Linked DNA regions of Homo sapiens. The protein of the gene in region 1 purifies or fractionates together with the protein of each later gene. This does not show direct contact. Each region holds a gene or a part of one and is shown in the gene's direction. Other genes may lie near its edges. The genes, in order: ZSWIM6 and NAT10.

Region 1 (3,820 bases):
ACCCGAAGGTAACATGGAAACTAATTTATTAAAAACTTTACAGTAACTAAACCTCAGAGTACCTTAGTGCAAAGTGGTTGAACTAACCACTGTGGTTTCCTTTCAGAATTTATTTTAAAAGTCTATGTTGCCGTTCTCAAAGCAGCATTCAGGGAGCACACAGGGGAAGTCAGCTCTGCCACCACGCCTGTCAGAATTTACTAAGAAATGAATTTTGACAGCTTAAGTGTAATTTTGCTTTTAAAATTGGCTTTCAGGAGCCCAAAGAATAGTAAACTTCCAGTTACTTTAATTTTTTTCTTTTGCCTATGATGCGTATGAAATGGGTAACTATTCTTTTTATTAATAATCACTTTCTAGGAATTAATATCTGTTGCCACTCATTAGAGGCAACAATGTGTATAGTTAGAGAGCTGTGGTTCAGAATCCTCCCACACCTCTCACCCCTGATACAGAGCACCATTTTCTGGAAACCTGGCATATTTGTGTCCCTAACCCTTCTTAGGTCCAGGGGTAGTTTCCATAGTTAAGCTGTGGTGTCATCTGTGCATTTACAAATCAAGATGCTCTGATGCCACACATTGAGAGAGGATGTTGCTCAAATGCAGCAAGGTTTTACGCTATAGAGGGTTCCTTTCTCTGAGGCACTTGTATTGTGAATGCTGTCTGCCCCTGAGTTCTGGGTTTTTCATCTAGCTGTGGGACAGTTAGGGGTTTGTTTATGAGGTGAAATCTGTAACGGATGCTATACCCTGAAGAATCTTTTTTGATTAAGGATTATATTCCTTTCTATATCATTTACTTGAAATTCTTATTTGTATATGTTATAACTTTATGTGACATTTTAACAATATGCTTTACAAGAAGTGTTAGTTCATTTTTTAGGAACGTAAAATGTGTATGCTCTCTTCCCACAGCCGGACCATATAGTGGTTTAGGTGAAATAATCCATCGGGAGAGCGTTCCAATGCACACATTTGCCAAGTATCTCTTCACCTCTCTCCTACCTCACGATGCTGAATTGGCATACAAAATTGCACTGAGAGCAATGCGGTATGTATTCACAGCCCAGCTGGGCAGAGGCAGGCCACATTCCCACTGGGAAGCATGGCTGTTAACTGACTTACTCCTTCATGTTTCTTATAGGCAGCAGAAAAGCTAAAGAAACTATGTATTTATGCTTCCTGTATTGTTGTGGAGGTGATTTGCTTGTTGGCTTGTTTTGCTTCTGTTTAAAGTAAGGGAAGGGTTATCCTTGCTGCTATCAGACTCAAGCACACCGTGGCTTTTTCCTACTTTTTCGTGAAGCACAATTCAAGCCAAGTTTAATCATAAAACAGCAACAGTTGAAACCTTCATAAATGATTAATTGTTTTGAAAAAATTGATTTTTGAAGCAGTAGTAAATAGTAAATATACTGGCTTGAATATAATTGAGGGAGACCTTCACACCTGCTGTAATTCCGCATTCCATCAGTAGTGCAGGAAAGCAACTCCCTGTATTGCCAAGGCACATCTGTATTCACTGGAGGCTGAGAGAAGGTGGGACGTGCATTTAGCAGTGAAGGAGTCGCTATTCGGGGTCCTTCAGGCTCTGCCTGCCTCTCTTCTGACTGCTTCCATCTCCTCATCGGTCTCTCCTTTTCAGCAATAACAGTTAGAATATGTTGTTCTCTACCACCCACCTTTTTATTTCTACCTTCTTTTAAAAGTTATTTCACATAATAATTATTTTTATCACAGATTTGTTCAAGGTGAATATTTTAATGAGTTCAAGATTATATTTTAATCTTACAAATAACCTTTAAATTTTAAGGACCTAAAAGGTACATCCATCTTTCTTAAAACATCAGCATTTTCTTTTTCCTTTAAAAAAATTAATAAAACACTCCTGTGCTTCTAATGGAAAGTACAGATCACCTAAGGACAAGCCATGTTGTAGACCTAAAAGCTTGTGTGTGCTGATTAACAGTTTGATCTCAAGAAGCTTTTCATCAAAGATTCTATGTCTGTAATCAGAGAAGTAGATTCTAAAACAAATCCTTGCCTATAAATTACCAGTGTCCCCAAAGTTACCCTGTTCTGAAAGTATTGAGTGTAGCTTATGTGTATAAGGACACCTCTTTTTTATGCAGTGATAAGGATGTGTGTATGTGTCTGTGTGTATACCTATGTGTCAGTGTGTTTTAAGGCTGACATCCTGTAATTTGACATGCTTTCCTTGGCAATATGGAATCTTACTAACCTGCTGGAGAATCTTCTTAAGTATTCTTTTTTCTATTTTTAAAATACCAGAAAATAAGTCAATAACAAACATCAGCAAAAGTCCCCCACCAAATTACATTATACCACTTGGTTTATGTTTTAGAGCACGATTTTAAAATAAGTGGGTTCCTATTTTTATTTTTGGAAGCTGAAATGGAAGCTGTCTTATGAAGACATATGCTCAACTCTATACTTACTCAAATCTTAGGAATTCTAATCTTGTTTTAAAGGGAAGATGTTAATGTTATGGTGCCACCAGATGCTGTTGCTACTACCACTGGCAAAGTTTAAGGGTAAAATAGCATAAAGTTTCTGTGTGGTTCTGGCTTATGTAATGGTATGTGCCAGGCAGAAAGGCTTGCTTTTCTAACACTCACAAACTCATTTATATTTGTCCTTGGTTGCTGCCAAGGCAGTTTCTTAATGGGGAATACTAGCAGGGTACAGGGGAATTTTTTTTCCACTTTCTCTCTTCTATCTGCCACTACTATCCTGCCAAAGGTCTGCCATGGAAGGCAGGTATGTGCCCCACCAGGTATTGCAAGGCAGCCCAGGGAACAGGAAGGAAAAGAGAGATGTAGCTCGCATGCTTCTTAGTCCTTCTGGAAGAGGAAGGCTAAGGAAGGTCATCTTCAGCACTCATTTTCTCATCTTCCCAGGGATGTTGATTAGTTTCTTCTACAGTAAGTCTGGCAAGACCTGCCTGTGAATACGAGGATATTCTGAGTTAAAAAAAAAAAAGCTAAATAGCAACCCTGCCATTATTCTTACTACTTAACTGCCTACCTTGCCACCTTCTCTACTGCTGACATCTTTTTGTTCCTAAATAAAAGGAGAAGAGAATGAGCCATTTGGCTTACCAGGCAATAATTGCTCTTGGGTGGGGCCTTGAGGCCAGCATCACTCCCAGACCCAGCTGACTCTTCTTGGTCTCCAGCTCTTATCTTATTTCATAGTTCTTAACACTGGTGTACTTGACTGAAGGCCGGCATTTTGATGGTTGTAAATAAATTATTTCAGCTTTAGGTACTCTACTAAGCTTTTTGGTACTTTTAGAAGAGATTACTAAATATTTGCTTTGCTTTTAGAAATTTTTTCATCAGCATATTCTTTTTTTATTTGTTTTGAGACAGGGTTTTGCTCTGTTGCCCTGGCTGGAGTGCGGTGTGGTGTAATCATGGCTCCCAGGCTCAGCTGATCCTCCCATCTCAGCCTTCCAAGTAGCTGGGATTACAGGCACATGCCACCACACCCAACTGATTTATATTTTGTAGAAACAGGGTTTCGCCATGACAGTATATTCTTAATAAAAAATCAGAAATCACTCTGAATTTATGCAAAACTGTCAAGGGACAGACACTTAGGTCACATTTATCTTCTGTAATATGGTTGGTAGAACATAGTCTAATGTCAAATTCCTGGAGTCATAAGAAACTAATTGTTCAGAAAGTATGAATGGATGGAAAAGAGGTAATTTTTGTCTTACTTCCCTTCTTGTTTTATGTTTAAATAGGTTAAGCTTATTCATCTTAAGTACTCACTGCTTCCTGACTGTG
Region 2 (3,820 bases), on another chromosome or scaffold:
TGGCCTGGTAAATGCTTCCTGAATTACTTTTTATCTTGTCCAAAGAATCAGCATGTTTAAGCACTCTGCTGTTTCAGGACATAATGGCATTAAGATCTCTTTGGCTGGTAAGATGCCTAGTGGGAACCTTTCTTTATTTCCTGGAAGTGGTGAATTCTCTGTATTTAGATTGATTCGCAGACAAGCTAATACCTTTTGAAGCCTGGGGTGGTGGGTTGACCACAAAGTGAACTGTATGTGACCTGGCTTCTAGTCCAAACCTGGTCATTGCTCGCCTTAGAACCTTGGGCACTTCCCTTCCCTGGCCCTCAGTTTAGTTTCCACATCCGTCAAATGAGGTCTTAAGCCTGGCGGTCTCTAAAGTCTCTTTTGTGCCTGAAATTCTGTGACTTTTTTGTTTGGCAGGTGGTAATACTTCATCACATGTTATCCAAAGCAACTGTGAAGGCTCGGCCTTCAGTGCTGTGGTGTTATAAGAAAGAGCTGGGGTTTAGCAGGTAAGCTGGGCTCTTCATGTGTTTTATCCAACTTACAATTCCTGCTCATTAGTTAAATGCCAGGAAATGATTCCTTCACATATTTTTTAAGGGTCTTTAGTGGAGGTGCTATCTCTGAGGACAAATGGAGCTGATATCCTTTCTTCATTCCTGAAAATAAGTTTCAAATCATTTTCATGCTTTTTAAGTCACCAATCCAATGCCTTGCCTTCTGCATATGGTTTTCCTTCCTGCTTTTCTAGGCTGATTAAGCCCATCTCATTGCAAGTTCCTTCAAACTGTCTTTCCTACCTCAAATTTATTCCACTTTTCACTCTCTCTCTTTTTCTCCCCTTCTTTCATGGAGGGGGTATATGCCTCATCCCATGTCCAAGGAAAACCCCTTTATGTACCCTGTGTCTCCTCCCTCACCTCTTTCAGGACCTGTATTGTCTTTCCTCTGCTGGCCACCCAATACCCTTTGGAAACTTTCTCCTTCCTGTAAACATGCTCAGATTTTTCTATTATCAAAAGCTGATTACTTACATACCCAGATTTCTCTCTCAGGTTAGCATTTCCCCCGATTTTTATTGCCATATACCTTAAAACAGAAATCTTTTGCACTTAGTAGCCACTTTTGCAGTCTGGTTTCTGCTTCTATAATTGTGATCAAATTGTGCAGTTAGACATCCCCAGCAGCTTGATGCCTAATGCGTCAACTTTTCTCTCTCTTTCTCCTCCTTTTCAGAGCTCTGCCTCTTCTTCTACCAGTTCACTGCTGTATTTGACAGTTGGCTATTTGAAGCTGTGGTAGTCAAGACTTTTAGTCATAGATAACATACTTTCAACACAAATACAATTTGGCACAAAGGGATTTCATTGAGGTATATGGGATATTTCCTGGAATCCAAGGGGATAAGATTTCAGCTCTGCTCACGGGTGATCTAGAGTCACAGTACTAATGCTCCCAGCTCAGTTTGTCATCTCAGTGTATCTGCTCTATGCAGACCAACTTTCTCACTGCAGACCAGCTTTCTGTTTTCTGTTGTCCCCCTAGCAGAAACAACACTTGCGTTTTCCTTGTTTCAGGCCCAGCCATGTGGAAATCAGACTTTTTCCCAAAATTCTGGTGGAAAAATGCCCACACCTGGCCAGAGGAGGGTGGGGTTGGTCATAGCATAATACAAAGTTGGAAGTTCTACCTACAACTTTGTGTTTGGAGAAGTTTGGATGGGGTGGGTAGTGCTGTTCCTTGGCAGATAACCACCATGGCATCACCTAAGAAATAGTCTCCTTTTTTGGCTTCAGTGTCTTTACTCAGACCACCTTCCGGAGCTCTTCTCTTTCTCTGGATCTCGTCTCCTTACTCTAAACCTAGCTGGCTTGTGCGATTCTGTCCTTGAGCCTCTTCTAATTTCCAAATGTGCTCATCTCCGATCTGACTCTGAAAGCCTGTCTCCAGCTCTGGTTGCTTTATGCTGTGACTAACCTCCCTCCTTTTCTTTGCTCATGCTGTCTCCTCTGCTTGGAATGCCACTTCCACCTCCCCGGTATCACCTATTGAAATCCTGTTTCTCAGGGCCTGCCTCCTCCGTGAAACTTTTCCTGAGCCCCCCAGTCATACCTGGTGGTTCCTCTACCTTCCTCTGCACTTGTCCTTCTCCTATAATGTTTGCCAATGGATGCTTTTGCTTTAGGGTAAAGTCACTTACATACTGTGACTTACGTTCATTTTTTTTTCTTTCCCTTTTTTTTTTTTTTTTTTTTTTTTTACTTTCAGGTGATAAGCTTATTTAGTTAGGAGCCCTCTTCTATTTATCTTTGTATTTTCATACTTTTAACTGATTTAGCATGTTTATCATAGGTACTCAGTATACATTGAGTTGGATGTGTTGTTAACAGGCTCTAAAATTATTTTAATTTAAATTAGTACCAGAGGCTAAACTTGCCCCTGTCCTGTGGTCTTAAAGTGAAGGGATTCTGCCTAAAGGAAACCAGACAATCATAAGAGCCTTACTGATGAAATGTGAAAAGTGCAGAAAACCCAAAGATGAAAATAAAAAACATCTCACTGTCTAGGCATTGTCAGCATCTAGGTGTATCTTACAGGGATGTAGTTTTGAACCATAATTGGTATTCTGTTGTATATACTCTCATATTTAGAGAGGTAGGCATTTTTAATACAGATTGAGAATAAGGCCTGTTGTCTATCCCAGAATTTTAAGTTTTTAGGGCTTCTGGTTTTCACTATTTTTCATTTGGCAAATATGAGATGGGTGTGGAATTAGGCAGTTCAAAGTCTTCTGGGCAGATTTGCCTTTTGAATTTAAACCACCTGGCTTCACTTCTAAAAATCTACTTTTGTACCTCTTATAGCTCTTCTGCCCCACCCCTGTCTTAGTCTGGCAGAGCATTGTGTTCAAGCTAATGCCTGTTTGTAAGTCACGGGCTTAAGGCCTGAGCCAGAAGGGACAGTGGAGACAAACTCACCCACTGCCTTGGTTCATAGATGAGGAAGTGGAGGCCCACAGGAGGAAAGGCCTTTGTTCTAGCTATTAAGTTAGAGAACTATGGTAAAATTTTGATCAGCTGTAATCCTCCATTCTAGAACATTCTAATTCTCTCTTTTGGTAAAGGAAAGGTAAGTAGCAACTGGATATGCAGGGTTTTTAAGACCAAAAAAATTCAGGAATTCCTTAGAGATGTCCAGATTCCATTCTGATCCCTGTGTCCTGTATCATTATTGTCTTATGTAAGACCTGCCCTTGAAGACATAATCCCACATTCTCGGGGAGGAAGTCCTCTAGGAAGGATGAATAAAGTAACGTGCCATCACCTTGTCTTTCCTAGGATCTCTGGGGAACAGCACAGTGTAGTTGAAGCATTGGCTTATGACTGAGATAATGAGGCCACTCAGGTTTGGTTTCAAGCTCTGGCTTTGGCCAAATGTGAGGGTTAGCTACCCTATTACCCATCTTTTAAAGCAAAGTATTTGCTCAAGGTCACAGGGCAAAATAGCAGAGTTCACACATAGACTTATCACTTACTCCAAGCCCTTAAGCACTCTAATGCCTCTCATGCCTCTCCACTGCCCTCCACCTGAAGTGGGCCTCACACTTTCAAGTTCCCTACTAGCTCTGAAAGTCTAAGTGGGTGATCACTGAGCCTTTCCCCTGGTTCCAGCTCTTTAGCTGCTCTGGTTAACTGGCTCTCATGGGATTGGGGGTGTGTGATTGCAGTCACCGGAAGAAAAGAATGCGACAGCTGCAGAAGAAAATAAAGAATGGAACACTGAACATAAAGCAGGACGACCCCTTTGAACTCTTCATAGCAGCCACAAACAT

Evidence for each region.
Region 2: the proteins of ZSWIM6 (region 1) and NAT10 purify together in Homo sapiens (affinity purification with western blotting; one study listed by BioGRID). This does not show direct contact.

What each region holds. Positions count from the first base shown.
Region 1 is NC_000005.10:61,534,567-61,538,386, forward strand, and holds part of ZSWIM6 (zinc finger SWIM domain-containing protein 6), read left to right. Parts: intron 1-917; coding exon 918-1,053; intron 1,054-3,820. UniProt on the Homo sapiens protein: involved in nervous system development, important for striatal morphology and motor regulation.
Region 2 is NC_000011.10:34,108,337-34,112,156, forward strand, and holds part of NAT10 (RNA cytidine acetyltransferase), read left to right. Parts: intron 1-405; coding exon 406-497; intron 498-3,715; coding exon 3,716-3,820. UniProt on the Homo sapiens protein: RNA cytidine acetyltransferase that catalyzes the formation of N(4)-acetylcytidine (ac4C) modification on mRNAs, 18S rRNA and tRNAs.